Linked DNA regions of Homo sapiens. The protein of the gene in region 2 interacts with the protein of the main gene of each other region in a biochemical or structural test. Each region holds a gene or a part of one and is shown on either strand. Other genes may lie near its edges.

Region 1 (4,022 bases), on a different chromosome or scaffold from region 2:
GTGGCCACTACCCCAGCAGCCATATTTCATCCCAACATGTGGCCAGTCTCAGAAATGAGGCAGGGACAGTCAGTCACTGCCCATCTCACTCCCATCAGATGTTTTTGTGATGAAGCCAGCCCATGTGGCTAGGTAAAAATCAAGAGCCCTTAGGCAATGTTTGATGCCTTTATAGTTAAGAAAATTTAACACACACCTATTCTTACATTTGTTTTCTTGTGACAAACGTGATTAAAATGCCACTTAAAAAAAATCAAAATATCTAAGTGATATTAGTAGGTCTTCTTGTATTTTGTTAGGGACATTCTCGGTTAGGTTCATCTATCTTGACTTCCCCACCTGTGAAAGCAAGGAAGTCATAAGAAAAAAGGTAATAATAAATTCAGGCTGGGCATGGTTGCTCACACCTGTAATCCCAGCACTTTGGGAGGCCAAGGTGGGCAGATCACTTGAGGCCAGGACTTGGAGACCAGTCTGGTCAACATAGCGAAACCCTGTCTCTACTAAAAATACAATACAGGCATGGTAACGCATGCCTGTAATCCCAGCTACTCAAGAGGCTGAGGCAGGAGAATCACTTGAACCTGGGAGGGTGGAGGATGCAGTGAGCCAAGATCAGACCACTGCATTCCAGCCTGGGTGACAGAGCAAGGCTCTGTCTCAAAAAATCATAATTCTCCCTTTTAAGGTAATATAAATTAATGTCTATGGGATCATATGGGGCAAAAATATTGTAAGCAAAGATGTATCAGCAGTCCTCTAGCTGGTGTGCCTTATGCTAATTTTTAAAATATGGAAGAACTGAGGTTAAAAAAGACTAACTCCAGGTAAAAAAGGCAGCCAACCATTAACTGTTTAGCTGTATTACTTTTATGAATACATCATAAAAAATAGGCCTGGCAGAATTAATATACCCTTAAATCAGTTTCCTGAATTAATGAACCAATGAATTAATACTGGGTTAATCCCCTCCCCCCCACAAAAAAAGCCTGGGGATGGTGGCTCATGCCTGTAATCCCAGCACTTTGGGAGGCTGAGGCGGACAGATCACAAGGTCAAGAGATCGAGACCACCCTGGCCAACATGGTAAAACCCCATCTCTACTAAAAAATAGAAAAATTAGCTGGGCGTAGTGGCGTGTGCCTGTAGTCCCAGCTACTTGGGAGGCTGAAGCAGGAGAATTCACTTGAACCCAGAAGGCGCAGGTTGTAGTGAGCCAAGATCACACCACTGCACTCCAGCCTGGCAACAGAATGAGATGAGACTCTGTCTCAAAAAAAAAAATGGCGAATGCATGAGCCCATGATGGGTGAGAATGCAACACTATTCTCCATTTATTATGAAATACAGAAACTCCAATAGTGGGATCTGGGCCTGGGGGCCTGGCTGCAGGGTTCCCCCTCTTTACCCCGAGGCGGGGCTGCTGCTCTCAGTTCCCTACTCACCAGGCCCAGGAGTGGCTTTCGAGCAGACTGGCGGTCAATGGTTTTCCTCTCAAATGGCTTCTTGGTAGCTGGAAGAGACTCCGGGAAGAAGGTAAAAACCTGGAGTTGCTGCAGAACTCTGCTGTGCTCTTCGTGGAAGATGGCAATAAGGTTTCCCTCTCTGCCAGCCACTTTGAGTAACTGGGGTCCATGGGAAGAGCAGAGATAGAGAAAAGAAGAAAACACGATAAAAGATCCCAGAGAAAAGAAGAAAACATGATGAAAGATCCCGGATTGACAGTCTCCTTAGAACCACTGGAAGCTAAAGTTCAGCTGCAGCTCATTCTCTGAGCTACCGACACAGCAGCCTGATGCAAGACACAAGTTCTCCAGGGCACTGCCTGCGGGCCAGGTTGGCTGGCTCTTCTGGGAACTGCTCAAGAGGGAAAAGATGTTTCAGAAGCCACAGGCTTCATGACACCATCAAGGGATTAAGATTTCCTGAGGGATGAACTAGCGACACATTCAGTTTATCTAATTCAGATAATTTTTCAAACCATGCTACCATTTTTCCCAGAAAAATACCAGGCAAAGGCTATAGATGACCATCCCACTGAACAGGTAAGAAACTCACCGAAAGCAGTGGCTTTAATTGCTCCAGAGCCTGGTGCACAAAGTCACAGTGGGCTTCAGCATAGCCGTGGACACAGTTGGTGAAGAGGCCCTGGGCGTACTGGTGGAACTTGGGCAGCTCATCCAGCAGCTGTGCATTCAGGGCCTCATAGTTGTTCCGGGCCGACTGCAGCTCCTCCAGGGTCTTCTTGTCCTTTAGCTTTTCTGCCCGTTCTGTACAGTTATAGAAGTCCAGGAGCTTGTCAAAGCGTTTCTGTACCAGCTTATGGGGCCCTGTAAACATGCTCAGTAACTGATTTAAGGGGGAGATGACAAGCCGCTCTGTCCTCTCCTTCTGTAGGGACGAGAAAGGCACATTGCTCAGCTGGACAGCATCCCACATTTGTGATTATCCAAGTCACTCTTAAGGCTGACTTTGTTGTGTCCTGAACCACCTACTTCGTTTCTAGTACACAAGCTAAACCCATACAGATCTACAACAGTATTCTACTAACCCATCACTAGCCTCTACTTAAATACTCCACAAGACTTCTCACTAGATACCTTCAATTCCCACATCAAGGAGTATGTAAAATACACTAATCTCACTTGACCTCCTTGAGGTGATAAATGCTAAGCTGCACACTGATATGATGTGTGCATTAGAAACCAGCCGTGAAGTTTACCTGGTAACATTTATTATGTGTACATGTCTACATAGCTTGAATTTAACTCCAGAGTTAGTTGTTACATAAATCTGAGGTGGAATAACTTTCATACACTCATAAACCTTTAATCATAACTAGGTAATACCCATTTTTTTTTTTTTGAGACGGAGTCTTGCTCTGTCACCCAGGCTGGAGTGCAGTGGCGCAATCTCAGCTCACTGCAGCCTCAGCCTCCCAAGAAGTTGGGATTACAGGAGTCAGCCACCGCACACAGCCCCCATTTTTATCTTCCAAAGAATTTTTCTCTTGGTTGGGAACGGTGGCTCATGCCCATAATCCCAGCACTTTGGGAGGCCAAGGTGGGCAGACCACTTGAGGTCAGAAGTTTGAGACCAGCCTGGCAAAACCCCGTCTCTACTAAAAATACAAAAATTAGGCAGGTATGGTGGTGCATGCCTGTAGTCCCAGCTCCTTGGGAGGCTGAGGCAGGAGAATCGCTTGAACCTGGGAGGCAGAGGTTGCAGTGAGCAGAGATTGTGCCACTGCACTCCAGCCTGGGTGACAGAGTGAGACTCCATCTCAAAACAAAAATTATAAATTTTTCTCTTTAATTCTTTCTAACACACAGACATTAAGGGTAAGGCAATGAATACATAAAGAACATAAACAGGTACTTAGTAGTACTTAGTAGCATCTTATTAAAAATAATGTACAATTAGAACACCTGTCAGCTCCCCAGGTGGGCATGTCTTTTTCACCCTCAGGCCACTTATAGATCCCTACAAAACTATCAAACCCCATCCAGTTTTTTCTACAAGGGATTAAACAATCCCATATATATGGATTTAGAATTTCTCAAGAAATTTGGTCTTCAGTACTTCAAGCAATTTTTTTTTGAGACAGAGTTTCGCTCTTGTTGCCCAGGCTGGAGTACAATGGCATGATCTCGGCTCACCATGACCTCCACCTTCCAGGTTCAAGCAATTCTCCTGCCTCAGCCTCCCGAGTAGCTGGGATTACAGGTGTGCGCCACCACACCTGGCTAATTTTGTATTTTTAGTAGAGACAGGGTTTCTCCATGTTGGTCAGGCTGGTCTCAACTCCCAACCTCAGGTGATCCGCCCACCTCGGCCTCCCAAAATGCTGGGATTAGAGGCGTGAGCCACCATGCCCGGACTTAAAGTAGTTTTTACCATCTCAAATCTCTTTGGTAACATATTAACTATATTCCTAAATATTTGTCTTCAAGGTTTTTTTTTTGTTTGTTTGTTTGTTTTTGTTTTGAGGCAGAGTCTTGCTCTGTTGCCCAGGCTGGAGT
Region 2 (3,500 bases):
GGCCCCTGGGGAACTCTTTGCCCCATGGGGAGGGTGAAGCCAGAGGAGGTCCAGAGAGGGACCCCTAAGTGTAAGTCTCAGACTAAGGGCTCCATTCCCCAGGCCTAAGGGCAGTACTGATGTCTTCTATCATTCCAAGTTTTTGTTTTGTTTTGTTTTGTCTGTTTTGTTTTGTTTTGTTTTGTAAGACAGGATCTCACTCTGTCACCCAGGCTGGAGTGCAGTGGGGCGATCTTGGCTCACTGCAGCCTTGACCTCCCGGGCTCAAGCCATCCATCCTCCCACCTCAGCCTTCCGAGAAGCTGGGATGACAGGCATGTGTCACCACACCCAGCTAAGTTTTTTATTTTATTTTTTGTGGAGATGGGGTCTCACCATGTTGCCCAGGGTGGCCTCAAACTCCTGGACTCAAGTGATCCTCCCACTTTGGCCTTCCAACCAGGTTTTTATTTTATTTGTATTTATTTGGCATTATTATTATTATTATTATTATTATTATTAGAAACAGGGTCTTGCTCGGTCACCCAGGTTGGAGTGCAGTGGCACAATCTCAGCTCACTGCAACCTCCGCCTCCCAGGTTCAAGCAATTCTCCTACCTCAGCCTCCCAAGTAGCTGAGACTAACAGGCACCCGCCATCATGCCTGGCTAATTTTTGTATTTTTAGTAGAGATGGGGTTTCACCATATTGGCCAGGCTGGTCTCGAATTCCTGACCTCAGGTGATCTGCCCGCCTTGGCCTTGCAAAGTGCTGGGAATACAGGTGTGAGCCACCAGGTTTTTAGATGGCAAAAATGACACAGAGAGCGTAGGGAACCTGCCTAATGTCACACAGCAATTGAATCAGAGGCAGGCCAGGAACAGGCATGGGTCTCCTGCCTCCAGTCCACACTTTTCCATGTTTCTGTCTACCCTATTCCCCACCCCAGTCCCACCCATGTGTGCACACACCTACACACCTCAGTGTCTCCTCCTCTCCTCTTCCTGGGCGACTCTCTGGCACTCTTACCCATTCCCTGGAATGAAATCTGGCTAAGAAACAAGAATCATTTGGAGAAGTCAGCCCTGGCAACTTAGAATTACTATAAGCAACAGAAAAAAAAAAAGTAATATTGAGCTTGGAAGGTGTTCAAAATATTCTCCTGAATGGCATCTTCCCAGTGCCCTGGCCAGAGGCCCCAAGATCAACTGCCTGCCGGCTCCCCCATCCTCCCCATCTGACTTGGTCCCCATGCCCTGTGGATTCTGCCCAGTTCACTCCTGTCTACCTCAGACTCCAGCCCCTTTGTCTTAGCAGCAGAGGTAGTTTCCTCCCTTGCCCCCTAATCCATTCCCCGCCCGACAGCATGAAACTCTCTCCAGCCTCCCAATCTATCTTCCTAGCTTGAAGCCCTCTTTGGATTCCCTGCCCTCAAAACGGAACCCCACACCTGAGTTGGGCCCCTGAGGGCTGATTACCCAGTCCTGCTTCCTTTCAGCCGCTCCCTCCTGGTCTACCTGAATATATTACAGTGCGTGGGAAAAATAGGGCCGTGCCCTCTCTCTCACTCTCCTGGGGTGCTATTGCATATGCTGTTCTCTCGCCTGGAAGCCTCTTTTTTTTTTTTTTTTTTTTTTTTTTCTGTACAGACAGGGTCTTGTTATGTTACCCAGGCTGGTCTCAAACTTCTGGCCTCAAGCCAGGTCTCAAACTCCTGGCCTCAAGCTGGGGCTTGAACTCCTGGCCCCAAGCGATCCTCCCACCTCAGCCTCCCAAAGTATTGGGATTACAGGATTCCAGGTGGCTGGCCCCTGGAAAGCTCTTCACCCTGCCGTTGTCTTCCTCTTTCACTGGGTCTTTCCTCCAAGTGTCACATCAGCCAACACCTCCTCTGGGATGCCTTCTCTGATGACCCTCTCCTGCCATGACCTGGCCCTCCCTGTGTGGGGTGGGGCTTTGTTTTCTCCCAGATGGGAAGCTGTAGAGGAAGAAAGAAGCCCGTTGCCTTGGGCTCAGAGCTCCTGGCAGAGGGCGGCTCCAACCATGGTTAATATTAACAACGTATCTAGTCATGACTGTGTTATTCTTTAATCACTCTGTCTCATGTGCCTCTCTTCTTAGGTCAGGGAAAGGAGGCCACTAGCCAGGGTGGGGAGAAAAATCTCAGCGGGTGAATGCACCCTCACCCCCAACCTGGGTCCCCATTTCAAAGGAATGCAATGCTGTAGCACATAAAGCACCCAGCACATGGCACGTGCTCAGGAACTGGGACCTGCCAATGGGCACCCCCTGTTAGGTCCTTCCACAGCCAGGATCTCAGGGCATTCCCTCAGCAGCCCTAGGAGGCAGCTGCTGGCCTGTGTCCTATTTCACTGGTGGGCAAACTGAGGTTCAGAACAAGGAAATAATTTAGTGGCTGAGTTGGGGTTCCTTCTCATCAAGATGCTGGTGATAAGAAATAAGGATCCATAGCTGGGCATGGTGGTGCACACATGTAGTCCCAGCTACTTCGGAGATTGAGGTGGGAGGACTGCTTGAGCTCAGGAATTTGAGGCTGCAATGAGCTATGATCGTACCACTGCACTCCAGCCTGGGCAACACGGCAAGACCCGGCTGGAAGGAAGGAAGGAAGGAATCAAGGAAGGAAGGAAGGAAAGAAGGAGGGAAACAGAAAGAGGATCCAGATGTAGCTGCATAGTGAATAACTTTGGAAATGTCTATGATATGTTAGGTGAATAGAGAAGCTATCAAAGGGCTGATAACCCAGTGTGCATGTGAGCGCCTGAGAGGCATGTGATTTCACCTTTCTGAGTCTCAGTTTCTTCCCTGTAACATGGAGAAACTGATCACTCTGATTTCACACAGCCATGCAAGAATCGATCCAAAGGCTGTAGATTTTCTTAAACAGCTTTACTGAGGTATAATTTACATGCCATACCATTCACCCATTTTAAAGGCACAATTCAATGATCTTTGGTATATTCACAGAGTGGTGCAACCATCATCACTATCTAATTTTAGGATATTTCCGTCACCCTAAAAAGAAATCTTGTGCTGATGTAGATTTTCAAGTCCCTGGCAGAGTCCCTGGCTGACAGTCAGCAATTCATCAGTGTTTAGCCATGATGATGATGATGAATGATAAAATGTTTACAGTGGCTCCCATCAGGTGTTGGGATGACGATTGGTTTTTATTTTTTAAATATTTCACGTATTTTCTGGATCTTTTTGTTTGTTTGTTTGAGATAGAGTCTCACTCTGTCATCCAGGCTGGAGTACAGCGGCAGGATCTCAGCTCACTGCAACCTCCACCTCCCGGGTTCAAGCGATTCTCCTGCCTCAGTCTCCCGAGTAGCTGGGACTACAGGCGCACGCCACCACACCCTGCTAATTTTTGTATCTTTAGTAGAGATGGGGTTTCACCATGTTGGCCAGGCTGGTCTCAAACTCCTGACCTCAGGCGATCCACCCACCTCGGCCTCCCAAAGTGTTGGGATTACAGGAGTGAGCCACCGCACCTT

The links.
Region 1: the proteins of DNM1 (region 2) and DNMBP form a complex in vitro, tested with the Homo sapiens proteins (one study listed by BioGRID).

What each region holds. Positions count from the first base shown.
Region 1 is NC_000010.11:99,884,242-99,888,263, forward strand, and holds part of DNMBP (dynamin-binding protein), read right to left. Parts: intron 2,392-4,022; coding exon 2,059-2,391; intron 1,626-2,058; coding exon 1,446-1,625; intron 1-1,445. UniProt on the Homo sapiens protein: Plays a critical role as a guanine nucleotide exchange factor (GEF) for CDC42 in several intracellular processes associated with the actin and microtubule cytoskeleton.
Region 2 is NC_000009.12:128,209,879-128,213,378, forward strand, and holds part of DNM1 (dynamin-1), read left to right. Parts: intron 1-3,500. UniProt on the Homo sapiens protein: Catalyzes the hydrolysis of GTP and utilizes this energy to mediate vesicle scission and participates in many forms of endocytosis, such as clathrin-mediated endocytosis or synaptic vesicle endocytosis as well as rapid endocytosis (RE).